Homo sapiens: one gene and its partners. The protein of the gene in region 1 purifies or fractionates together with the protein of each later gene. This does not show direct contact. Each region holds a gene or a part of one and is shown in the gene's direction. Other genes may lie near its edges.

Region 1 (3,500 bases):
CTGACAACTCTCTGTTCCCCTGCCTTTTTAAATAGGTTATGCACTCACTCTAAGAGATGCCAGAACAAACTATAAAGACCAAGATAAATCAATACTTTGTAAGGCATTTAAAAGCTCATTAAAATGTGTAAGTAGTGTTATATGTAATGAATCTTAAAAGACTGACGCCAAGAGTAATCTTCTATTTCTCTGCCTTCTCTATTCTTTTACCTCCTATCCACTTTTAACTCCTAACACTGTTTGCTGGACTTTTTCCTCTGCCAAGAGGTTTGACAGCTACCTAAAAATAGTATAGCTGAATGCCAGTGGCTAATTATACAAAGGGAAACCCTCAACTCTGAAAATCAATTCTGAGCCTGATGTTGGAATCACAGTTGCATGGATTTCTGATTTCATATTTATTTTTTCCACATCTGATCTTAGATCCTTTATAGCAGAAGGTGGGTTAAACCGTGATTGTTCAGGTAGTTTCTGATGAGTTGTGGATGTGGGAGATGAAAGCAAAAATGAGTGAGATGCTAGATTACTCTCTGTCTCTCAGCTAATTGTTTCAACTTCCTCCCTGCTTAGATTTTGTAAGCATGAATGCCATCATGAATATCGTCCTGAATGTTTAAGCATGTCATCATGAATGTTGACATGATGACATTAAGAATGTCTTCATGAATGTTTAAGCATGAATGCCACCATGAATGTCAGTCATCATTTCCAAGTTCACTAGATACTTTACAATTGCAGCTTATTTAACTCTTCACCTATTCCCACTTTCCTCTTAACAATAAAAGCAACTATATTTCTAGTGCTATGTGCCAGACATTATGCTAGAGTGATGATTCTTCATGGGGAGAGCAATTTGCACCCCCGCTCCAGGATATGTGGCAATGTCTAGAAGCATTTTTTATTGTCCCAACTTGTGGGGAGGGGTATGCTACTGGCATCTAGTGGGTATATGTAAAGGATGCTGTTAAACCCCCCACAATGCACAGGACAACCTCCTCAACAAAGAATTATTCAGCCCAAATTGTCAGTAGTGCCAAACTTCATGTATATAATCTCATTTAGTCTTCATAATAACCTTATGGAATGGATATGATTATCTCCATTTTGCTGATGAGGAAACCAGCCTATCATTGTAAATTACTTAGAGAGTGATTGAGTTAATGAATTCTCTAGGCTCTTTGCTTCTTCTTACCTGAGACCCGTTTCCTATCTGTTAGCATATCTAACAGAGGGGAAAAGAAAGAAGAAAGCCCAGCTCAGTTCTGTGTTATATAAGCAACTCTGGTTTGAAAAAAAAAAAAAAAATCTAAGCAGGGAGGAAGTTGAAACAATTAGCTGAGGGATAGAGAGTAATCTAGCATCTCACTCATCTTTGCTTTCATCTCCCACATCCACAACTCATCAGAAACTACCTGAACAATCACGGTTTAACCCACCTGCTGCTATAAAGGATCTAAGATCAGATGTGGAAAAAATAAATATGAAATCAGAAATCCATGCAACTGTGATTCCAACATCAGGCTCAGAATTGATTTTCAGAGTTGAGGGTTTCCCTTCGTATAATTAGCCACTGGCATTCAGCTATACTATTTTTAGGTAGCTGTCAAACCTCTTGGCAGAGTAAAAAGTCCAGCAAAAGAGTAACAAGTATCCTAAGGTTTTATGCCTCCCTCTTACGTGGCAGGTGAGAGGAGGCTAAGACATTATTCACCAGTTGCAGACCCCAGAAAAGAGGGATTCTGGCCACTGTGTTCCAAAGTGGCCCAGTTGTGAAAGGGAAGACATTTGGGCCTCAGCCTGCCTTAAAAGTGGGAATATCCTTGAACAATCAGAAAGCATTGTATTTTTCCAAAAGCTCTTGGCAGCAGCGGTGCTATCTCCAGGGTAGCGGCTGCCCTCCTCTGAATAATGAGAAAATTATAATTATTATCAAGAATTATTATTATGTTTTAAAATACATTGAGTGCAAACAGTGTGCCAAGATAAAGGACAATTTTTTTAAACAATTCTCTAAATTCATTCCAAGTTTGTCACCCTTTCCCAAGTATTTGTTCATTTTAACTCTTTCATATTTCAGGCTGAAACATTTCAAAGTGAGGTACAAAATGACAGCCATGATTAGGCCGGTCTCCTAATCAAGGGAGAGCTACAGATACCTGGCTTGAGGGCAAATTCTGGCCACCAAGTCAGCCTCTACTTTTGCCAAGGCCTGAAGAGAGAGTTCCCATAAAGGTCTATATGTACCATGCTTAAATATTTTAAAGTTGTAACCAACAAGCCATTGAGTAAAATGTTTCATCCTCCCACCTTGACAAATACACCTTCGTAACAACATGGAAGGCCAAGTTTGAATTTAAGATTCCTGGACCTTTCAAAATTCCATACAAAATGTGATCATACAGGAGAAGCTGGGCCCCCACCCCTAATCTGCTTCAGGGACCCTGGCCTCTTCTCTCCCAACCTCAGGCTACATAGAATCTATTTGTCTGAGCTCTAACTGAAAGCCACCACTTGGCCCCAGGAACCCTACACATTTATGGCACAGTCTCCCGTCAGAGTGAGAGATTTAGAATGAGACCCGTGATGTCTTGGAAACAGGCTCTGAGCAGTTGGGTAGAGAATTCCCTGAGTGTGGTCTAGACAGGGTTGTAAACTTAGTGGACCTTCTCCTTGGCACTGTGGGAGGTTACAACATCATTCTATAGAGGTTAGAGGCATAACCAGTAGAGGGTGCCTTAGTCCTTTTGGGCTGCTATCACAAAATACCATAAACTGAGTAGTTTATAAACAACAGATATCTATTTTTGACAGTTCTGAAGGCTGGGAAGTCCAAGATCAAGGCACCAGAAGATTCAGTGTCTGGTGAGGGCCTGCTTTCTGGTTCATAGATGGCTGTCTTTTCACTATGTCTTCCCATGGTGAAAGAGATTAGCTAGCTCTCTGGGTCTCTTTTATAAAAGCACTAATCTTATTCATGAGGGCTCTGTCCTCATAACCTAATCACCTCTCAAAGACCCCCACCTCCTAATACCATCATATTGGGAATTAGGATTTCTACATATGAATTTAGGGAGACACAAACACCGAGACCACAGCAGAAGACCAGAGTGGACTCCTCTATAGCACCTCCTCTAGAGCTTGGGGCAAGAGTCACTTTTGCTTGGGTTTCAGGGTTACTCCCTAAGTCACAGGCCTTATGTCTTCCCCTAGCCTTCAGAACTGTGAGACAACAAATTTCTGCTCTTTATAAATTACCCAGACTCAGGTGTTCTGTTATAGCAACCCAAAATGGACTAAGATAGATGGGTTTCATTATTCCCACATTTTACATGGGAAGAATCTGGAGCTCAGAGAGGTAAAGTAATATGCATAAGGTCCCAGAGTTAGGAAGCAGCAGAGCTGGGATTGTAATCCTGCAACAGCTTCCCATCTCACTCAGAGTCCAAGCATGGTACTTTCAATAGCCCTGCACAATCTGTCTACCTCACACCCTCCTATTC
Region 2 (3,500 bases), on another chromosome or scaffold:
CTCCTACATGAAATTAAATGAAATGGACCAAGGCAGACACTGGTCTTCCCTGCAAAGCTAGGTCTTTGCTGCTGGTCTCCTCTCTCTCTGGACATTACACAGGCTCGGGCCTCCATGGAATAATTTTGCACTTCTGCTGCAGGTAGAACAAGTCAGCCAGTTGGCTGTGTTCATAGAGGCAGCATTAGACTATCACAGACAGTCCACAGAGATTCTGCAGGAGCTGCAGAGCAAGCTACAGATGCGGTAAGCACCTCCACGTTTCTTACAAGCCAAGGGCTGCGGAGGTAACATCTATTGAAATCCATCTGTCTGTCTCTCCATCTCTCCATCTCCCCCTTCCCCTGCCTCATTCTGTTTTGAATTTTCTTTCACTGGCTTTCATGGTTGGATGTGGGATGGGACTGAGATAATAAGTACTGGCTTTGGCCAGTAGGATAGAACTGGGAAAAGGGACCTGGCAGCTTTTCTCCTTTTTCTTTTCATTAAATCCCTTTTTTTTGTGACCCGTGTTTAGGGCAACTAACCAAGTTGCTCTCCCACCTGGGACATCAACCCCTACAGAACTACCCTGGCTTCATTGCTGATTTGATGAGAGTTTAACTCCCCATTCACAAAGGGATGGAAAACATCCAGAGCTATGGAAAAAAGTGAGATGCTGTATGGAAAATATGTAAATATCTGTAAAAAAAAAAAAAAAAAAAAAAGGTAGTGCCTTCACTTCACCAGTACGAATTTCAGGATATGTTCATAATATTGACTAGTATTGAAAGAGTCAAAATATTGACAAATTTCAGGCTGTGTTCATAATATTGACAGGTATTGAAAGAGTCAAAAATATCTTCTGAACAATCAAAGAAAGGTTTCTGCATTCCTTGTGAATTTAATCATAGATGTAGTCTATACTTTTCTGAAAATTAGTAATATTATATATAGTCTGCATGGCAACCCTGTTTATTAAAATATTTTAAATTAGGTTTGATAACAGAAAATTGTTTTACACAGGATTATGGTAATGCATAAATTTGGAGGGATTTTTACTTAAATCAATGACGTAGTTACCTAGGGAAGACAAAGATGTGTTCAGTCCCTGAAGCATCCACTTCTGCAGGCAGATAGTTTACCTGTTACTGACAGGAGTGTATTTTCATAATTCTATCATAATCTATAAGAGTAGAGTGAGGGAGAAGGCAGCTCCCATCACTGGGTGCCGACCGCGTCCCAGGCACTTGCTGGATGCCTCAGAGACTTGATGAAGAAAATTAGTCTTTTGTTTTGTTTTGTTTTGTTTTGAGATGGAGTCGTGCTCTGTTGCCCAGGCTGGAGTGCAGTGGCGCCATCTTGGCTCACCGTAACCTCTGCTCACTGCAGCCTCCACCTTCCAGTTTCAAGAGATTCTCCTGCCTAAGCCTCCCGAGTAGCTGGGATTACAGGCGCCCACCACCATGCCTGGCTAATTTTTGTATTTTTCGTAGAGATGGGGTTTCACCATGTTGGCCAGGCTGATCTCGAACTCCTGACCTCAGGTGAGCACCTTGGCCTCCCAAAGTGCTGGGATTACAGGCATGAGCCACCATGGCTGGCCCAATTAGTCTTCTTCAAGATGAATTTCACTCACAAGCTCAAATAGGGAGTTGAAAAACTGCATTTGTGATATCACCTCCATCACTTCGGGCTACTCAAGAGTCAGTGTGTAAAAATCGTCCCTTTCATGACCACTGGCTGTAACCTAAGTTCCTGTGCTCAACAAGGCAGAGAGGATGTGTGTTTGGAAAGCTTTCAACATCAGATGTCTGGCTCATCTTACGATGTGTGTTACAGAATATCAGCTGCATCCAGTGTCCCCAGACGAGAATACAAGCCAAGGCCTGTGAAAAGGAGTTCTAGTGAGCTCAATGGAGTTTCCACCACCTCTGTAGTGAAGACGACAGGTAAGTTGACCATTCTAATATGCTAAGTGTGCCTTTAGTAAAGCACTTCTAGAAACACTTATTTACTGCTTGTTTCTGGGTCAGTGAATACACACAGACCCTGGATATCTTTCTTTGGTTGTTTGGTAAATTCCCTTTTCCCCTAAACGTGCCCCTTTTTTCTGTTCCCTGGGGAAGAATTCTATCACTTATATAATGTAGCATTTAGAACCTTGGCCATAGAACCATTATGGCTACATCATCCTTTATTTTTTTAACTCTTTGAAAATATTTTCTTAATTTATTTTTAAGTTGAAATTAGCATTTTTGAGCAACTGCTATATGCTAGATACTATCTTAAGTGCTGCATCGTTATTTTTTATTAAACAAGTGATGCAAATGTGTCTTTTAGTAAAATAATCAAACAGAAAAAAATTGGTAAAATAATCAAACAGAAAAAAAAATTTAATGGTATAAGTCATTCTATAGTCTCTTGTGATCACCTACACCATCGCAGTTCGCTTCCTAGATGTAGCCACTGTTAAAAAAATTTGGTATAACTATTATCATATCTATTGAGGTACATAAATATACACATAAACAGCGTTTTGGATTTTTTTCTGTTTTTTCTTTTTTTCTTTTTTGAGACAAAGTCTTGCTCTGTCACCCAGGCTGTAGTGCAATGGCATGAACATGGCTCGGTGCAGCCTTGACCTCCTGGGCTCAAGCAATCCTCCTGCCTCAGCCTTCCATGTAGCTGGAACTACAGGTGTATGTGACCCTGCCAGGCAAATTTTTTTATTTTTTGTAGAGACAAGGTCTTACTTTGTTGCCCAGGCTGGCCTGCAACTCCTGGGCTCAAGCAATCCTTCTGCCTCGGCCTTCTGAAGTGCTGGGATTATAGGCATGAGCCACTGTACCCAGCCTTTTTTCTGTTTTTTAAATGCGAGATTATACTAGGCATATTGTTTGGCAGTTTGCTTTTTAAAATGTATCACTGTTTCTTCGAGTTATTTCCATATCATGCATATAGATCTATCCCACTGTTTTAACAGCTTCATAGTTTTCTATTATACCATTTCCCTATTGGTGGACGTTAAGGTTTTTTCCAGTTATTTGCTACAGTGAGTATCCTTTATCACTGTGCTGGCTACATTACTATTAAAGCATGAACACCTGCTTCCCCACACCCATGCCAGTAGACTTCCATTTCTGCCAAGCACTCATGAGAAAAAAATGGTATCCAGTCTTAATTTGCATTTTCATGATTATTAGTGAGGGTGAACTTTCTTTTCTATATTTTAATTTGTATTTCCTTATGTCTGAATTGTCTGTTTATGTCATTTATTTGTGTTTTTTGGGAGTAGTTTGCTTTGTCTTATTGTTTTATAGGAGCTCTTTCCATATGAGGATATTAATAATTTTTTTCCTAGTTTGTCATTTATCTTTAAACTTTGTTTTTGGAGTGCCTTGTCCCTTTGTTGTTTTTGCTGTTGTTTGCTTTGTTTAGTTTTGCTTTGAGTATACAGAAGCTTTTATTTTGATGTAGTCAAATGTGTCTGTCTTTTGCTTGTGACTTTACATTTTGTG
Region 3 (3,500 bases), on another chromosome or scaffold:
GGCAGGCAGCCGAGAGTCAGAGTCATCCCTCCACTGCATAATGCTGCCCTCACACAGGGCAGTCAGGGGAGGGAGTGATGGGCTTGTCCTGAAGGGGTTAGGGAGGGCTTCCCAGAGAGAGTGAAATGGAAACTGGGCTTCTGGGGAGGCCAGGAGCATGGGGCAGGGAACTCTAGGAGAAGGAAGCGACTGAGGCCCAGAGGCATAGAAGGATGTGATGCTTGGCTGGGCGCGGTGGCTCACACCTGTAATCTAGCACTTTGGGAGGCTGAGATGGGCAGATCATGAGGTCAGGATATCGAGACCATCCTGGCTAACAGGGTGAAACCCCGTCTCTACTAAAAATACAAAAAATTAGCCGGGCGTGGTGGCATGCACCTGTAGTCCCAACTACTCGGGAGGCTGAGGCAGGAGAATGGCCTGAACCCAGGAGGCAGAGTTCACAGTGAGCTGAGATCGTGCCACTGCACTCCAGCCTGGGTGACAGAGCGAGACTCCATCTCAAAAAAAAAAAAAAAAAAAAAAAAAGGATGTGATGCTTGATGAGTGCTGAGTGCTAAGGGGTCTGGTAGCACTAGAGCCCAAAGGAGGAGGGTGGCAGGTCGAGGTTAGCTGGGACCGTTGGGCGTGAAGCAATGGGAAGGGCATTGGCTGCCAGGCTGAGGCACTGCTGAAGTCCTTGAAAGCCCATGTTTGCCCCGCAGTCCTGTGTCTCTGTGACTCTGCTGACCTCAGCAACCTCAGGGCTGAAGCTCTGAGCTTGATCTGTCTCTCTTACGGCAGGAGAGGTGCTGAGAGGGGACCGGATTGTCAACACCCCTTTCCAGGTTCTCATGAACAGCGAGAAGAAGTGTGAAGTTCTGTGCAGCCAGTCCAACAAGCCAGTGACCCTGACAGTGGAGCAGAGCCGACTCGTGGCCGAGCGGATCACAGAAGACTACTACGTCCACCTGTAAGTCGCCCTGTGCTCCTTGCTGCCTCAGGCTCACACAGGGGAGGACACTGACGGGAGAGGCGGTCGAGAGGGACTGAGTGGGGCCTTCACTTTCCAGCATTGCTGACAACCTGCCTGTGGCCACCCGGCTGGAGCTCTACTCCAACCGAGACAGCGATGACAAGAAGAAGGAAAAAGATGTGCAGTTTGAACACGGCTACCGGCTCGGCTTCACAGATGTCAACAAGGTAGAGTGTCTTTGGCGTGCTCACAGGACCGGGAGCCACACCTCACGAGTCCTGAGCACTTGGGGCCACAGAAAAGGTGGGGCTCGGCCACAGCAAGTTTCTCCAGGTGCCCTGGGCATGATGGTCTGTCAGAGGTCCGAGTGCTCCGGGCAAGTCCCTGGGAGGTGCTACAGGGAGGTGAAGCCACAATTCTTAGGAAGTTAGGTTCCATTTTTGTAAGATTAAAACAACATAAAAAAAAAAACCGTGGAACTTCATCAGTATGTAGGAGAGAGGGCTAAGTAGTGGTCAAGAGCGTGCAGGCTCCCTGGGTTTGAATCCTTCCTCTCCCAGTTACTAGTTGTCTAAGTGACCCTGAGCCTGTGGTTCCTTAGCTGTAAAATGTATGCAGCAGCAGTGGCGGGGTAAATTAGCACATTCGTGTGAGCCCTTCCCAGCACAGCCCTGGAGAATCAGCTAATAATGTGATGATTATAGCCCTGATTCTCTTATCTTTCTTTCTAAACTGAAAGATATTAGTTAGGGAATAAATTACAAAAGTATGTGTTTTGAGGTGCAGCCCCTGTCCCCAAAGGGCGTCTGTCCTAACTGGGAAGAGAACCGACAGTGGGAGGCTCTAAGTCTCCAGTCCCAGCTGCCTTTCACTGGCCATTAATTGCAGGCGAGGTCAGAGGGAGCTCCTTTTACACTCAGGTTGTCACAGAGGAGGTGGGCCATGAGAAGTTGGTGGGCTTTTGCTGAGTGGAGTTGGGGGTGGCATTCTAGTTGGAGTGATTGCAGGGTAGAGACTGGTTCATGGGGCGGTGGGCACAGGGGAGTCTAGGTGAACTCATGTGACTTAGATGATTACACCCAGTTGTATCAGGGTCAGATGATAGAAGGCCTTGAATGCCAGACTTTGAGAAATGGGCTTTTGTCTGATAAGCTGCAGGGAGCCCTTGAAGAGCTTCTGAGTAGGGGAGTGATGAGAACAGTGTTTTAGGAAGGTTGGTACAACCAGGCATGCTGGGTGAGGCAAGGGCCCTAATACCTGGAGAGTATCCCTAAGTGATGTTCTGTTGTGCTTTCTCTGTTGCTGTGTTTCAGATCTACCTGCACAACCACCTCTCATTCATCCTTTACTATCATCGGGAGGACATGGAAGAGGACCAGGAGCACACGTACCGTGTCGTCCGCTTCGAGGTGATTCCCCAGAGCATCAGGCTGGAGGGTGAGTGGGGAGGTGTGGCCGGAGGGGCAGGGCTGGATGGGCCTGGGCTTCTCCACGCAGGGTCTTCGCACTCTTCTCCCTCCTGAGCTGGCCGATGGGCTCGGGTGTGGCGTGTGGGCCCAGCCAAGGTAGGATCATGGTATTCTCATTAGAGAAGACGGGGTGTGGGGGCAGCTGACAGCTGCAGTGTCACGGGCTAGACACCTTACTAGTTTACCCCTTCCCAGCAACCCCAGGAGGTACGTGATGATTACAAAGGAAGAACTAGAGGCTCAAAAGGAGCTAGTGACTTGGCCAAGACCAAACAGCAAGTTGGGGCTTTGTTGGGCCTCCTCACAAGAACCAGCCAGCTCACCCTGGGTTGAGAACAAGGGGCCAGGGTACAGACAAAGCCTGTAGGCAGCAGGTTTCTTCGTTCCTCTCCCGCTGTGTGAGTGATTGGCATAAACTAAAATTTGCCCAGGGTCAACAGGTGTGCGGGAGTTTGAGAGTCCAGCACAGTCCTGATGGGCCTCACAGGAGCTGGTCCGGCTTTGCCTCACCTCTTGGCCCTTGATCATCACAGTGTGCTTTTTAATTAAGCAGCATGCCCAGGATTTTGACCATGTTGGTGGTATTTGGACTTTTTTTTTTTTTCCACTGTGGAACTTAGTGTTCAAACAAAATTAGACACAGAAGTCCCAAACATAGATCCTGCCCTTCAAGAGCTCCATAGCACATCTCCCCTGGGAGCTTCCCGAGCGCAGTTCTACGTTTGCATGTGTGACGCTTTTGAGGCCACCTGCTCCCCCACTGGCTCTTCAAGCTTAGAGTCTCCCTGTCTCCTTTTCTTACCATTTTATCTTTTTTTTTCCCCCCAAGACAGAGTCTTGCTCTGTCACCCAGGCTGGAGTGCAGTGGCGCGATCTCCGCTCACTGCAACCTGCGTCTCCTGGGTTCAAGCAATTCTCCTGCCTCAGCCTCCTAAGTAGCTAGGATTATAGGCGCCCACTACCGCACCTGGCTAATTTTTGTATTTTTAGTAGAGACGGGGTTTCACCATGTTGGCCAGGCTGGTCTCAAACTCCGGACCTCGTGATCTGCCTGCCTTGGCCTCCCAAAGTGCTTG
Region 4 (3,500 bases), on another chromosome or scaffold:
GACACTTTCCAGTCCTTTTTCCCCTACCAACATTTTAACAGCTTTTTTGAGGTGTAATTGCACTACACCTCAATAGACTGTGCGTATTTAAAGTGTACAGGTTGACACCTTTTGACATACACACTTGTGAAAAATTACCACAGTTAAGATAAAGTTTCATATGATTTTTTTTTTTTTTTTTTTTTTTGAGAGGGAGTCTCGCTCTGCCACCCAGGCTGGAGTGCAGTGGCGCAATCTCGGCTCACTGCAAGCTCTGCCTCCCGGGTTCACACCTTTCCCCTGCCTCAGCCTCCCGAGTAGCTGGGACTACAGACGCCCACCACCACGCCCGGCTAATTTTTTGTATTTTTAGTAGAGACGGGGTTTCACCATGTTAGCCAGGATGGTCTCGATCTCCTGACCTCATGATTGCCTGCCTCGGCCTCCCAAAGTGCTGGGATTACAGGCGTGAGCCACCACGCCCAGCCTGTTTCCTATAATTTTTTATGTTGATAATTTTTCAAAGTACTAAAATGCTGAAAGAACAGAACAAGGAATAGCTGCAAACATCTCCCCTAAAGTCACCAGTTCTTACATTTCCCCTCAAACTTTTTTCTCTGCAAACACATCCGATAGACACATACACACATGCACACACATTTATTTTTATTTTTTGGCAGGATCATTTGAAAGTTAGTTGCAGACGTCTTAATACTTTTTCCTACAGAACCACAATACCATTGTCTCAGCCAAGAAACTTAAATATAGTACAGTATTTTGTAACAGATAGTCCATATTCAAATTGTCTTTATAGCTCATAAAAAATCCAACACCCAGTCAAGGACTGCTCATGCATTTAGTGTTCATGTCTCTAGTCTGTCAGAGTTTCCTCACTTTTGGTGGAGGAAGGGACTTAATTATGAATTTTTTTTTATTTTTATTTTTTTTTGAGACGGAGTCTTGCTCTGTCACCCAGGCTGGAGTGCAGTGGCGCGATCTCGGCCCACTGCAAGCTCCACCTCCTGTGTTCACGCCATTCTCCTGCCTCAGCCTCCCAAATAGCTGGGACCAAGGGTGCCCGCCATCACGCCCGGCTAATTTTTTTTGTATTTTTAGTAGAGATGGGGTTTCACCGTGTTAGCCAGGATAGTCTGGATCTCCTGACCTCGTGATCTGCCCGGCTCGGCCTCCCAAAGTGCTGGGATTACAGGCATGAGCCACCGCACCCGGCCCCAATTATGCATTTTTTTCTTTTAGACAAGCTCTCACTCTGTAGCCCAGAATGGAGTGCAGTGGCGCAGTCTCGGCTCGGTGCAACCTCTGCCTCCTGGGTTCAAGCGATCCTCCCACCTTAACCTCCTGAGTAGCTGGGCTTACAAGCATGTGCCACCATGCCTATTTATTTATTTATTGTATTTTTCGTAGAGACAGGATTTCTCCTCGAAATCCCTGTGTTGCCCAGGCTGGTCTCTTGACTCCTGGGCTCATGCGATCCTCCCGCCTTGGCCTCCCAAAGTGCTGGGATTATAGGCGTGAGCCACTTCGCCTGGCCCAGTAAGGGACTTTTACAGCATTGACATTTCTGAAGATCACAGACTAAATGTCTTTTTTTTTTTTGAGCTATAATTCATATACCATACAGTTTATTCATTGAAAGCTCAGCGGTTTGTAGTATATTCACAGTGCTGTACAGCTGTCACTACAGTCAGTTTTAGAACATTTGCATTACCCCAAAAAGAAACTCTGTACCCATTAGCAGTCACTACTTTTTTCCTTTGCCCCAACTCCCAGCCTTAAGCAACTGCCAATCTGCTTTCTGTCTCTATTTCTGAGCCTACTGTGGGCTTTTCATAGGAGTGGAGTCCTGTACAGTCTGGCCTTTTGTGTCTGGCTTCTTTCACTTAGCCTCATGTTTTCAAGGTTCATCCATACTGCAGGATCAATACTTTATTCCTCTTTATGGCTTTTTATTTACCTGATCATCAACTGATGCACATTTCGGTTTATGTCACTTTTTGTCTATTGTGAATGGATGCTGCTGTGAATATCCATGTGCAAATATTTGTGTGGGCATTGTTTCCAGTATTTTGCGGTGCATACCTAGGAGTCCAGTTGCTGGGTCATACAGGAACTTTTTGTTTAACACTTTGGGGAACCGTCACCCTTTTCCAAGGCAGATGTACCGTTTTACCTGCCTACCAGCATGTGGGGCCTGGTTTCCCCACATCCTTGTCAGCACTTGCTATGGTCTACCTTTTTAATTCTAGCCATCTTGGCAGACGTGAAGTAGTATTGCTGTGGTTTTGACAGTCCAGAACTGGTTTTTTTTTTTGTTTTGTTTTTTTTTTTTTTGAGACAGAGTCTCGCTCTGTTGCCAGGCTGGAGTGCAGTGGCACAATCTCTGCTCACTGCAACCTCCGCCTCCGGGGTTCACGCCATTCTCCTGCCTCAGCCTCCCGAGTAGCTGGGACTACAGGCACCCGCCACCACGCCCAGCTAATTTTTTGTATTTTTAGTACAGACAGAGTTTCACTGTGTTAGCCAGGATGGTCTCGATCTCCTGACCTCGTGATCCACTCACCTTGGCCTCCCAAAGTGCTGGGATTACAGGCGTGAGCCACCACACCTGGCCCAGAACTGTCTTTTGAAATGTCCCACAGTGTGTATTGTATTATTCTGATTATCTCCTCCGGGTTAGGCTCAGACTTAGCTTTCATGGCAAGAATTCTGCAGAAGGCATCATGTGTCCTTGCTGAGGCAGTACCATATCGGGGCTCGTGGTGTCTGTTTGTGCCATCGCATTCTCGTTGGTTGACGCTGAATTTGATCTCTGGGTTGAGGCTGGGCAGGCCCACTGCGCTGGGGGTGCCCTTTCCCCTCTGTGGTTCATACGTGGTCTGTATGTTATGTTCCAGCATTTTCCGTTCATCTGGCTTTTGCATTTCTGTGTGTTCTTCAGATGCTTGGGAAACCTCTGAATGGCAGAATCTCCCGTCCCCTCTCCCTGGCTTGCTTATCAAGATGCCTTTGCCCTCATGGCCTGATTTTCCATAGGACCCGTTTGCATGTGCCTGAGGGTGATGGAGGTAAAGCGAGATTAGGATGCAGGAAGGCCATTGTCACCCAACCCCGGTGTTGGATGTCCCCGGGTGTTGGATGTCCCCCGCCTGACTGCTGCAAGAAGAGCGCTGATGAAATCCCAGGCTTGAAGCAATCTTGTTCCCTCCCATGGAGGCGATGGCTGGGCCTTGTTTGTCTGAGTCCTCAGGCATCCACAGTTTGCTCACCTGGTCCCCTTATTTCAACTTTCCATTCTGAAAATTGTCCAACATAACCAAAGGTAGGGAGAGTAGAGTGAACCCTTGTTCACCCAGGTCTTCCCATGTAGCAACTTTCTGCCATTCTGGTTACTTCTTTCCTTCCTAAATTTTTTTGAGGGTGCCTGGAATAATATTTTAAAGCTAATCCAATACATTAGTTCACCTTTGCATATTTCAGTTAGCATCTTTAACAATAAAAAT
Region 5 (3,500 bases), on another chromosome or scaffold:
TAAAAAAAGAAAAATCCATTACCTTGAAGTGGCATAAATTTTTTTCATGAGATGCATGTTTATTATTACTAATGGTGCTGTTTTACATCATGAATATATGTGCTACAAGTTGTATAGCACTTCTGAAGTACAGTTTCATTATAGTCATTTGGCCCTCATAATAGCTTGTAAGGTCATTAGATAATGCTGCATTTTATAGGAAAAGAAACGAGGTTAAGAGAGGTTGGGTAACTGAAGGTCAGGCAGATAGTAAATAGAAGAACAAAACTAGAAAATAGATTTTCTCACTCCCAGTCATTTAGTTTTTCTAATATCAGCTTGGTTCTTTGCAAATTTGGGACACTAGTTCTAAGTCTTTAGGAAAAGGAGAAACCAATGTGAAATGATCCCAAATATAAGGGAATTCCCTACTTTTCTGATGAAACTATTAAGAAGGAAAGCTTTTTGCCAATTGTATAAACTTTTTAAAATGCAGCCAAAATAGGCCGGGCGGTGGCTCATGCCTGTAATCTCAGCACTTTGGGAGGCCGAGGTGGGCAGATCACCCGAGGTCAGGCATTTGAGACCAGCCTGGCCAACCAACATGGTGAAACCCCATCTCTACTAGAAATACAAAAAAAAAAAAAAAAATTAGCCGGGCGTGGTGGCAGGCGCCTGTAATCCCAGCTACTCGGGAGGCTGAGACAGGAGAATCACTTGAACCTGGGAGGTGGAGGTTTCAGTGAGCGGAGATCTTGCCATTGCACTCCAGCCTGGGCAACAAGAGCAAAACTCCATCTTAAAAAAAAAAAAGGTAGCAAAAATAGTCAAATATGTTCTTAAAATAGTTAATAATTCACTTATATGTATATGTTTTAAATAAATAAAGTTTAATTTAGAAATAATTACTTTTTTCCATTTTCATATTAATAAAACAATTTTTTCTAGATTCTTTATGAACATCATGTCATCACTGGGGCCACTTTTTGAATCATCAGTTTGGTATTTAGCAGTTTTGAATCCATGTGTGATATATTGGCAGTTTGGGAAATTTTATCCCAAGTCATAAAAACCCATTTATATAATATTAGGATAGTTGCTTTTAAAAGGAATATTTTGTAACTGATATTCAACACATGAAATTGTGAGTTCTGGCTAGGCGTGGTGACTCATGCTTGTAATCCCAGCACTTTGGGAGGCCAAGGTGGGCTGATCACTTGAGTCCAGAAGTTCAAGACCAGCCTGGGCAACATGGTGAAACCCCACTTCTACCGAAAATACAAAAATTTGCCAGGCATGATGGCACCTGCCTATAGTCCCAGCTCCTTTCAGGGGGCTGAGGCAGGAGGATTGTTCAAGCCCAGAAGTTGAGGCTACGGTGAGCCAAGATTGCACCATTACAGTCCAGCTTAGGTGACAAAGTGAGACCCTGTCTCCAAAAAAAAAGAAAGAAATTGTGAATTCTGATCCTCAGGATAATTACTAAATCCAGTGACCTTTTGTTAGTACTACATGCAAAACTAGCGTAGTTTGAAGATAAGATGTATCCCAGACAATTATTTTAGTTCAATATAAAGTCATTGAGGGAGCACCTTTAATATGAGAGACTATGGAAGGATTCAAAACTACACAACTCTTTTTTAAAAATATATAAGTATTCCTTACATAAAAATATATTACCATGATAGCATATTTTCACACCTAAAAAATTAGCAATAATTTTTAATATTATCAATTATTCAGTCACTGTTCAAATTTGATTTATACATTGTGATTGATTGACATGTCTAAGTCTCTTAATGTGTTTGTATTTTTAGTAGAGATGGGGTTTCACCATGTTGGTCAGGCTGGTCTCGAACTCCTGACCTCAAGTAATCCACTCGCTTTGGCCTCCCAAAGTGCTGAGTTTACAGGTGTGAGCCACTGTGCCCGTGAAAGTCAGTATTCTATTACTTGTCATGTCAGCTGGTCGTGGTAGTTCACGCCTATAATCCCAGCACTTTGGGAGGCCAAGGCAGGAGGATCGCTTGAACCCAGGAGTTCAAGACCAGCCTGGGAAACATAGCGAGATACTGTCTCTACTAAAAGCTTTTTAAAAATTAGCGAGGCTTGGTGGCACACACTTGTAGTCCCAGCCACTCAGGATTTCTTGAGCCCAGGAGTTTGAGGTTGTAGTGAGCTGTGGTCTTGCCATTGCACTCCGGCATGGGTGACAGAGTGAGACCCTGTCTTAAAAATAATACTACTACTAGTCATGTCACTAAATAAATATGTCATTCTATGGAACATTTCCTGAGATGCTGAGAAAACAGATGTGAAGAAATAATTAGTACTTACTTATGCATATGTTCCTGGCAGGTGCTGTTGGCAGCAGCGGTCTGCACAAAAGCAGGAAAGGCTATTGTTTCTCGACAGTTTGTGGAAATGACCCGAACTCGGATTGAGGGCTTATTAGCAGCTTTTCCAAAGCTCATGAACACTGGAAAACAACATACGTTTGTTGAAACAGAGAGTGTAAGATATGTCTACCAGCCTATGGAGAAACTGTATATGGTACTGATCACTACCAAAAACAGCAACATTTTAGAAGATTTGGAGACCCTAAGGCTCTTCTCAAGAGTGGTAAGAGTACTGCTATAATACTGGGTTCCACTTTTTGTTTTACATTTTATGTGAAACTAGTTTTTCCTCCAAAGCAGCTGATGCTAACCAGTTTGCAGGTTCCTACTCCGCACCCCAGCGACTTATTGCTGCAGCACCTTGTTTATTCAGCAGACATTTATTGGGTGTCCTCTTAGACTATAGATGTCTCAAAAGAATATGGGAACTACTGTTTCATTTCCCAGTTCTTAAGCAGTTGTTCTAATCTGCCGTTCTAGTTCTGACACTTGTTTGGCTATGCTTTTTAGGTAATGTTTTTTAGGTAAGACTTACTGATCCAGAGACAGACACACACACACACACCCCTCTTCTAAGACTTTATGCCAAAGTCTTGCTTAAAATGAAGACTTAGGTAAGACTTACTGATCCAGAGACAGACAGACAGACAGACACACACACACACACACACACACACACACCTTTTAAGACTTTATGCCAAAGTCTTGCTTAAAATGAAGGCTAAGGCCAGGTGCGGTAGCATGTGCCTGTAGTCCAAGCTACTCAGGAGGCTGAGGCAGAAGGATTGCTTGAGGCCAGGAGTTCAAGTGCACAGGCATTATACTTTAGTGTGGGCAACACAGCAAGACCCTGATTCTTTTTTTTTTAAAGACGGAGTCTCGCTCTTGCCCTGGCTGGAGTGCAGTGGTGCAATGGTGCAATCTCGGCTCACTGCAACCTCCACCTCCCAGGTTCAAGCAATTTTCTGGCCTCAGCCTCCCGAGTAGTTGAGATTACAGATGTGCATCGCCATGCCTGGCTAATTTTTGTACGGGGTTTCACCATGTTGGCCAGGCTGGTCTCGAACTCCTGACCTCAGGTGATCTGCCTATCTTGGCGTCCCGAAGTGCTGGGATTACAGG
Region 6 (4,200 bases), on another chromosome or scaffold:
AATATTACAGCACTTTCATCGCCCCGAAAGAAACCTGCTACCCTTTGTAGTCGCTCCTTATTACCCCTTCCCCAGCCCCCGGTGAAAACTCATCTAATTTCTGTCTTCATAGATTTGCATTTCCTGGACATTTCATACAAATGGATCACATAATGCGTAGTCTCCTGTGACTGGCTTCTTTCACCTAGCATTTTTTTTTTTTTTTTTGAGACGGAGTCTCGCTCTGTCGCCCAGGATGGAGTGCAGTGGCACAATCTCGGCTCACTGCAACCTCCACCTCCCGGATTTAAGGGATTCTCCCACCTCAGCCTCCCGAGTAGCTAGGATTACAAGCGCCCGCCACAATGCCAGGGCAATTTTTGTATTTTTAGTAAAGATGGGGTGTCACCACTTTGCCTAGGCTGGTCTCGAACTCCTGACCTCAAGTCATCCGCCCGCCTTGGCCTCCCAAAGTGCTGGGATGACAGGCGTGCGCCGCCGCGCCCGGCCTGCCTAGCATAATGTTTTCAAGGTCCAGCTGTGCTGTAGCATGCGCATGCTTCGCTCCTCTATGGCTAATAACATGCCGCTATTATCAAAATGCTGCAACTAGGAGCGCTAGTGTGTAAATTTGGCGTGGACACTTGTTTCCAGGTTTGAGGAGCTGCCACATTGCTTTTCAGAGTGGCTCAGGAGCTAATTTTTTTGCAGGGTACCATGTCAACAATTTGGGTCAACTAAAATCAGCGTGTCCGCACCATTTTCGCCCGCCCAATTTCACGCGATCCTGCGAAAGAATGACCCAGACCGGTCCGGGCGCGGTGGCTCGCGCCTGTAATCCCAGCACTTTGGGAGGCCGAGGCGGCAGATCACAAGGTCAGGAGTTCGAGATTGGCCTGGCCAACATAGTGAAACCCCGTCTCTACTAAAAATACAAAAATTAGCCGGGCGTGATGGCGGCCGCCTGTAATCCCAGCTACTCGGGAAGCTTGAGACAGAAGAATCGTTTGAATCCGAGAGGCGGAGGTTGCAGTGAGCCGGGATCGCGCCATTGCACTCCAGCTCGGGCGGCAGTGCGAGACTCCGTCTCAAAAAGGAATGACCCGGGTCGCATGGGGTGAAGGGTCGGGAAGCGCCCCAAAAGGAGAACGGGGCTGGGCTCCGGGATCCGTCGGCGAGGAAGGGGCGAAGGGGTGGAGGGACTCGGGCCAGGCCGCCGGGGATGTCTGTGGTTACCTCCAAGCTCTGGAGGCCTTGGCGAGACCCGCGCCATCCGCAGCTTGGTTCCTGCGACCTCAGCCGCAGGGCGGTCCGGCTCCGGTTTCCCAGCAACCAGGCGTCATCCTTCCCAGCAAGCACTGCGTCCAACCCGCGACGTCGGACCACAAGGCCCAGCATGCCCCGCGCGGACTACAAGCCCCACAATGCACCGCACACCCTTTACTGGCCGGCCCCGCGCTGCTCTCCTAAGACCCCGCGGGCCAGCGCCGCGACCCCTTCCCAGCGCTCCTCGCGCTGTGTGCGGCGCGTCCTCTCGCCGGTGACCCGGTGTGCGTGGGGTCGAGGCGCCGGGCGGAGTGGCTCCGGGCCGAAACGCCATGCGGAGGGGCGAGCGCAGGGACGCCGGAGGTCCGCGGCCCGAGTCCCCGGTGCCCGCGGGCAGGGCCTCGCTGGAGGAGCCGCCTGACGGGCCGTCTGCCGGCCAAGCCACCGGGCCGGGCGAGGGCCGCCGCAGCACCGAGTCCGAGGTCTACGACGACGGCACCAACACCTTCTTCTGGTGAGGGCAGTGGGCGGCCGCGGGGCGGCGAGGGTGCCCTCGACCTGGGGGTTCCGGCACCGCTGGCCTGGGGGTCCCCGGCAGCGCCCTCTCGCCGTCTTGGAGTCCAGGACTGTGGCCGGGGGTTTGAGGGTGTGGCAGCACCGCCCCCCGGGTCCCGGGGAGCGGCCGGACCGAGCTCCCGACGCCGGGTCGGGCGGAGGGCGGCGCTGTAGGTGGGGGAGACCCTGGGCAGACCCTCCCTGCGGCCGCTTTGCGTCTCTCTCGCCGCCCTCCCCACCCCTGCCCGCCTTGGCTCTGACCGCGCGGTTCTGCGATCCAGACCCCTTCCCCGCCACCCGCCTCCAGCGTCACCCCAGAAACGCTTTCTCTGTCCTGCTGTCGAAGCTTCACCTGTGTCCCCCGTCATTCTGCCTGTGGTTGCTCCTCAGTGCTTGCGGCTGCACGAAATCATCTTGTGTGTCGCGCCCGACCCCACGTGGCGATCGTGTTGATTAGCAGAGTGTTGTGCGTGCTTCAGGAATGTAGTCGGTGTTCGTCGAATCCAGGCTCTGTTTCTCTCCTCAGTTGCCCCTAGCGGGGCCAGCGCCTCCTCCCTGCACAACTCAGCCCTAGCTACACCTTGGGGTCCCCCTGTCCGCCACTCTGCCTTTAATGGGGGTGGAAAAGGAAGAGGCCCCCGGGAGCAGCTGGAGTGTGGCACTCTGTGTCCAGACAGGCTCCAGGTGCCGCTCCTACTCCCGACAGCTGCGACCCTGGGCTGGCCCTTTGCCGATGCTCCTCTGTGAGAAGGATCAAGCCGTCGACCTGAAAGCAGGCTTCGTGAGAGGAGGGTTTGGCTCTTCTTGACTGCAAGGTGCCCAGTTCCCATCCTGTGGAAGGCCCGGGGGCACAGGGGCAGTAGAGGTGGGGTCAGCCCCAGGAAAACGTGTGGGAGACAGGCGCCTGCGGCCAGCAGTGGAAGGAAGGCTTTATGGACGCTTCCAAGAGAACCATGCTGTGGGATGGTCGGAGAGCAAATCTGAGGGGCGAGGAGGGCCTGATGGAGGAGTAAGGGACTTGTCAGGGGAAGGCGCCACCACAGACAGGGACTTAACCGGTCCTGGCCTGTCACCGCAGCCGAAGCTCTGGAGAGAGACTGTCCAAGTGGTGGGAAAGCAGGTTAGGGTGGAGGAGGCCCCACGCAGGGTCTTCCGTGAGGTGTGGGCAGCTGCTGTTGCAGGGAGGGCATCCGAGCTCTCCTTTGGGGAGATGAGTGTACCGGGTGGCTGCGGGGCCCTCGGGAGGGAGAGGAGATGGGGTGCCTGCCACGTGGACCCTCTGGCTTCCGGGCCCTGTGGACATCAGGCCTCTCCATCAGGTGCCCTGCCACACCCCTTCAGGCTGTCCTCCCGCAGCACAGCTGGGGACCACCGGAGTCTCTGAGGTCCTGGAGCAAGGAGACCAGACTGGCTCTTCTGAGGTCCCGGAGCAAGAAGACCAGACGGGCTCCTCTGACATCCCGGAGCAAGGAGAACAGACGGGCTCCTCTGAGGTCCCGGAGCGAGGAGACCAGACTGGCTCTTCTTGTTTCTCATTTGGCCGTTCAGCACATTGTGGGGACCCCTACTGCCTGTCAGTTACCGTTCTACGGGACATAGCAGAGAACTAAACAAGAAGCTTAGATTCTGGTGCAGGCATGGAACTTCAGAAGGCTCAAAATGTGCTGGCTGGGTGCTGAGTGTGGCAGGAGCCAGGGGGCACATGCAAGCCTGCGCAGCCCACCCAGTACCAGGGAAGCAGGAGCAGCAGCCCAAAGGTAGGAGGGGGCCGGTCTCTTTAGAAGCCCAGACCAGTGGTCCCTGCCCACAAGGGGTGTTTGGGACACAGACGGCTGGGCGCAGCAGAGCTTGCCTGTCAGGAGGCCAAGGGGGTCAGGAGGGCTCTCCAGGAGCGGGTGCAGCGGGGCTGGCTGGTCCAGGTACCTCCTTCCTGGGTCTTCTGGGTGGGTGGCTCTGGCTCTGGCTTTCCCCTCGACCCTGTCCCTGTAGAGACGCATGGGGCAGGTTCTTGCTGTGCCTCCTCCCTTCCCTGTGCAGAGGAAGGAGCTTCACGCTTCTGGGTGGCAGGTAACTCAATGCCTGCCTGGTGAGAATTCATTACCTGCAGAGCCTCACACTGACCTCCTGAGTCCACCTGCACTGACTTGCTGTGCTGGCATTTTTTTAACTCTAATTTTGTGTTTTAGAGAGTTTTACTTTTTATTTTTTATTCATTTTTATTTATTTATTTATTTTTAATAGAGGGTCCCCCTGTGTTGCCCAGGCTGGTCTTCAACTCCTGGCCTCAAGTGATCCTTCCGCCTCAGCCTCCCAGATTGCTGAGATTACAGGCATGCACCACCACATCCAGCCAGGGCGTTCATTTTCAAGGATGGGTGCACTTCCTCGGGCCAGTGACGG
Region 7 (3,500 bases), on another chromosome or scaffold:
CCCAAGGAACATGGTTACTACTTCACAGTGACAATCGTGACGTTTCAAAGCCAATCCCATCAAATGGGGCCACTGCCTCCCGGAAGTGAGTCATGGGGCCATCCGAGGGGCACGTGCAGAGTGGCCCTCCTAGGAACCGTCAGTGAGGCCAGCCCTGGGCCCGGCCCCGACACCATCCCAGCCCCCACACTGCCCCCGCCCCGTGCTGCCCCTGCCCATCCTCCCCCAGCCCCGAGGACCCTGCAGACGCAGCCGGAGGGAAGGGTGGGGTCAGCTTCCTCTCCCCTCTGAAAGTGCCTGTGGTTTGAAAGGTTTGAAACCCGTCAGCCTCTCATGTTCCCTTAGGGGTTTTGGAAAGAGGAAAGTCCTGTGGGTGTCGCACACCAGACGGCAAGATATTCTCGGGGGAATTTGGGAAGTGAGACTTAATCGGGAATAGAGTGACAGCCCCGTGTGCCCCGCAGCCCTGCGGCTCCCGTCCCTGGAGAAGCAAGAGTCTCCCAAGAGGTTGTCTTCCCTCCCAGCTGGATTTTCATTAAAAAGCCCAGCTCCGAGAAGGCCCCAAGAGACCCCGGGACCCTCATGGGCCCCCCACCCCAGCCTGCATTTGCAAACCCAACTTACACGCCTGCCCCAGGGTCCTCTCCCACCTTGGCCAGAGCCAGAGACACAGAGCTGGGTGCAGAGCCAGGTTCTCCCCAGGGGCCTCGGCCCACCCAGGACGGCCCTCGGCCGGTCTCACCTGCGTCACCACTTTGCTGGGCGTGGAGCCCAGGGCGTGGATAAGGTTTCCCCGCATTTTATCTCTGGGTTTTGCCGGGCTAAGGTTTAAAAACATGCAAAGACGGCAGGGGCTAGAGCCAGCACAGCAGGGAAGTCACTCAAACTGACACCCTGGGTTTGTCTCCGTAGATGAGACTCAGAATTCAAGTGGCAGGGAGCTTTGCAGCTGCCCCTGTTTTGCAGAGGATAGGAAGAGGCCAGCTTTGCTCCCAAAGCTTCTGGTCCCCTCCAGAACATTCTTTTGCCCCATGTCTTGCTGGCTGCTGGGCTCTGGGCTTCTCCCCTTTGGGGGCCATTGCCCTGTGATGATTTTCCTTCCAACGGCCTCGGGTGCCATGGGCTCCACACTCGGGCCAAGTCCAGCGAGGCCCGGGCCCCGGAGAGGGGGTGGCACTAACCAAGGACCACCCAACGCCCTGCCCGTTTTCCCTGCAGGTTCTGTACAATGTGTTTGAATCTTTCGTGGCGCTGGGAGGTGACAACGTGACTGGCGTGGACTGCGTGAAGGGCATAGGTGTGTAGCTGTGGGTCAGGGGGAGTGGGCGGCCGTGTCTCCTCTGGGGCCAACTGTCTTCTCTGGCCTGCAGCCCATGCAGGAAAAAGCTTTGCACTCAAAGCTGCTACACTGGGCCCTTCTGTCCACGTCACGTCCCCGTCCAGAGCGATTCACACACGATTTGACATGGTCCTGGGGGTTCCTGGGTGTTTCCCAGAACAGGGATGAGGGCAGCCAGGTCTTCCTGAGACAGACGGCCGGATAGGGCCTGGGGCCAGGCTCCCAGGGGCACGGGAGGGTCCTCCCCACTTGCTGAACCAAGGCTGGTGCTGAGACCAGGCCCGATCTCCAAGAGAGTGAGGGATCCACCCCCGTTTCCCGGGCTCCCGGCACTTCCGCGGGGTCACCAGGCGGCCCCTGGCAAGGAAGGGCCCGGAAGGCCGGCACGGCCACAAAGGGCGTCCTCTACCCAGTGTCCTTCTTCGTGGTGAGCCTGGGGGGCACGCTGGTGGGGGTGGTCTTCGCCTTCCTGCTGTCGCTGGTGACGCGCTTCACCAAGCATGTGCGTATCATCGAGCCCGGCTTCGTGTTCATCATCTCCTACCTGTCCTACCTGACGTCCGAGATGCTGTCGCTGTCGGCCATCCTCGCGTGAGTCCCTCCCACACACGCGAGCTTCTCCACGCCCTCCTCCCGAGCTTCTCCACACCCTCCTGGGTCCGGCAGGGCGAGCCAGCCAGGGGGACCCCAACCCGAGCTTCTCCACACCCTCCTGGGTCCGGCGGGGCGAGCCAGCCAGGGGGACCCCAACCCGAGCTTCTCCACACCCTCCTGGGTCCGGCGGGGCGAGCCAGCCAGGGGGACCCCAACCCGAGCTTCTCCACACCCTCCTGGGTCCGGCGGGGCGAGCCAGCCAGGGGGACCCCAACCCGAGCTTCTCCACACCCTCCTGGGTCCGGCGGGGCGAGCCAGCCAGGGGGACCCCAACCCGAGCTTCTCCACACCCTCCTGGGTCCGGCGGGGCGAGCCAGCCAGGGGGACCCCAACCCGAGCTTCTCCACACCCTCCTGGGTCCGGCGGGGTGAGCCAGCCAGGGGGACCCCAACTCGGAGGGAGGTGCCAGCCGCATGGACACCGGGGGTGTGTGTGGCAGAAGCTCCGGGCTCTGCATCACCAAGTTCCCCGTGAACCCCCGTGAGGGGAAGTACAGGAAGTGGAGGGCCTCCCCTGCCCTCTGTCCTAGCGCGGGACCTTCAGAGCAGTGTCCCGTCACCTCGCCCGCTCCGCTGGCGCTCCCAGGCTGGGTGGGAATTCAGTGTGGGGCAAAGAATTTATTTAAATTTTAAAATAAGGAGTTGGCGTTTCCACTGAATTGTCTGTGGGCCGACAGCAGTGCCCACCCTGAGACAGGTCAGGTGGGGAGGGACTTTGGAACCCTTTGTTGCCCTCCCTGCTGGCAGGCAGCCCCGGTGCCCATTATCTGCATGACGGTGATGCCGCCTGTGGCCCCCGCAGGGCTGTGGGCAGGAACCCTGGCGGCCCAGCCTGGCTCGGGAGGAAGAGGCCCCCGTAACCACACAACTGTGACTCTGGGCCTACAGGCGCCAGGCCGTGGGGGGCTGGGCGGACACGGGGGCCTCGGGCGCCAGGCCAGGTGGCCGTGTCCTGAGGCGCGTCTGTCCCTGCAGCATCACCTTCTGTGGCATCTGCTGTCAGAAGTATGTGAAGGCCAACATCTCGGAGCAGTCGGCCACCACCGTGCGCTACACCATGAAGATGCTGGCCAGCAGCGCCGAGACCATCATCTTCATGTTCCTGGGTATCTCGGCCGTGAACCCGTTCATCTGGACCTGGAACACGGCCTTCGTGCTCCTGACGCTGGTCTTCATCTCCGTGTACCGGGCCATCGGTGAGGCGGGGCCGGGTTGCGGCCGTGGGACCACCGATGGGCCGGCACCGTCTCCGGGAAGGCGCAGGCTTTCTACTGGGCCCAGGGAGATGGAGGTGCAGCCCCGTGCAAGGCAGAGGAGAGGACCTGATGGTGGCGGCCTCGGGGCTGGGGTGGGAGGCTCTGGAACCCCAAGGGAAACCACTTGGTTTCCCACTGACTCCACTGGATGTGCCTCAAGACAGGGTCAGTGGCACGAGAGATGGAACGGGAAGCAAGACAGCCCCGCCCCCGCCCAGCCCCATCCCCCAGCACCCGTGTGTGTGATGCACG

What was found.
Region 2: the proteins of DRD3 (region 1) and SH3GL3 purify together in Homo sapiens (pull-down; one study listed by IntAct). This does not show direct contact.
Region 3: the proteins of DRD3 (region 1) and TM9SF4 purify together in Homo sapiens (affinity purification with mass spectrometry; one large-scale study listed by BioGRID and IntAct). This does not show direct contact.
Region 4: the proteins of DRD3 (region 1) and BRI3BP purify together in Homo sapiens (affinity purification with mass spectrometry; one large-scale study listed by BioGRID and IntAct). This does not show direct contact.
Region 5: the proteins of DRD3 (region 1) and ARCN1 purify together in Homo sapiens (co-immunoprecipitation; one study listed by IntAct). This does not show direct contact.
Region 6: the proteins of DRD3 (region 1) and PTDSS2 purify together in Homo sapiens (affinity purification with mass spectrometry; one large-scale study listed by BioGRID and IntAct). This does not show direct contact.
Region 7: the proteins of DRD3 (region 1) and SLC9A3 purify together in Homo sapiens (affinity purification with western blotting; one study listed by BioGRID). This does not show direct contact.

What each region holds. Positions count from the first base shown.
Region 1 is NC_000003.12:114,172,553-114,176,052, reverse strand, and holds part of DRD3 (D(3) dopamine receptor), read left to right. Parts: exon of another isoform or gene 1-127; intron 128-3,500. UniProt on the Homo sapiens protein: Dopamine receptor whose activity is mediated by G proteins which inhibit adenylyl cyclase. Promotes cell proliferation.
Region 2 is NC_000015.10:83,586,841-83,590,340, forward strand, and holds part of SH3GL3 (endophilin-A3), read left to right. Parts: exon of another isoform or gene 1-135; intron 136-142; coding exon 143-246; intron 247-517; exon of another isoform or gene 518-673; intron 674-1,821; coding exon 1,822-1,931; intron 1,932-3,500. UniProt on the Homo sapiens protein: Implicated in endocytosis. May recruit other proteins to membranes with high curvature.
Region 3 is NC_000020.11:32,140,714-32,144,213, forward strand, and holds part of TM9SF4 (transmembrane 9 superfamily member 4 isoform 1 precursor), read left to right. Parts: intron 1-783; coding exon 784-952; intron 953-1,052; coding exon 1,053-1,182; intron 1,183-2,268; coding exon 2,269-2,392; intron 2,393-3,500. UniProt on the Homo sapiens protein: Associates with proteins harboring glycine-rich transmembrane domains and ensures their efficient localization to the cell surface.
Region 4 is NC_000012.12:125,000,145-125,003,644, forward strand, and holds part of BRI3BP (BRI3-binding protein precursor), read left to right. Parts: intron 1-3,500. UniProt on the Homo sapiens protein: Involved in tumorigenesis and may function by stabilizing p53/TP53.
Region 5 is NC_000011.10:118,578,909-118,582,408, forward strand, and holds part of ARCN1 (coatomer subunit delta), read left to right. Parts: intron 1-2,337; coding exon 2,338-2,601; intron 2,602-3,500. UniProt on the Homo sapiens protein: Component of the coatomer, a cytosolic protein complex that binds to dilysine motifs and reversibly associates with Golgi non-clathrin-coated vesicles, which further mediate biosynthetic protein transport from the ER, via the Golgi up to the trans Golgi network.
Region 6 is NC_000011.10:448,879-453,078, forward strand, and holds the start of PTDSS2 (phosphatidylserine synthase 2), read left to right. Parts: upstream 1-1,400; 5' UTR 1,401-1,577; coding exon 1,578-1,759; intron 1,760-2,478; exon of another isoform or gene 2,479-3,459; coding exon of another isoform or gene 3,460-3,557; intron 3,558-4,200. UniProt on the Homo sapiens protein: Catalyzes a base-exchange reaction in which the polar head group of phosphatidylethanolamine (PE) or phosphatidylcholine (PC) is replaced by L-serine. Catalyzes the conversion of phosphatatidylethanolamine and does not act on phosphatidylcholine.
Region 7 is NC_000005.10:482,950-486,449, reverse strand, and holds part of SLC9A3 (sodium/hydrogen exchanger 3 isoform 1 precursor), read left to right. Parts: intron 1-1,218; coding exon 1,219-1,297; intron 1,298-1,752; coding exon 1,753-1,930; intron 1,931-2,967; coding exon 2,968-3,188; intron 3,189-3,500. UniProt on the Homo sapiens protein: Plasma membrane Na(+)/H(+) antiporter. Exchanges intracellular H(+) ions for extracellular Na(+) in 1:1 stoichiometry, playing a key role in salt and fluid absorption and pH homeostasis.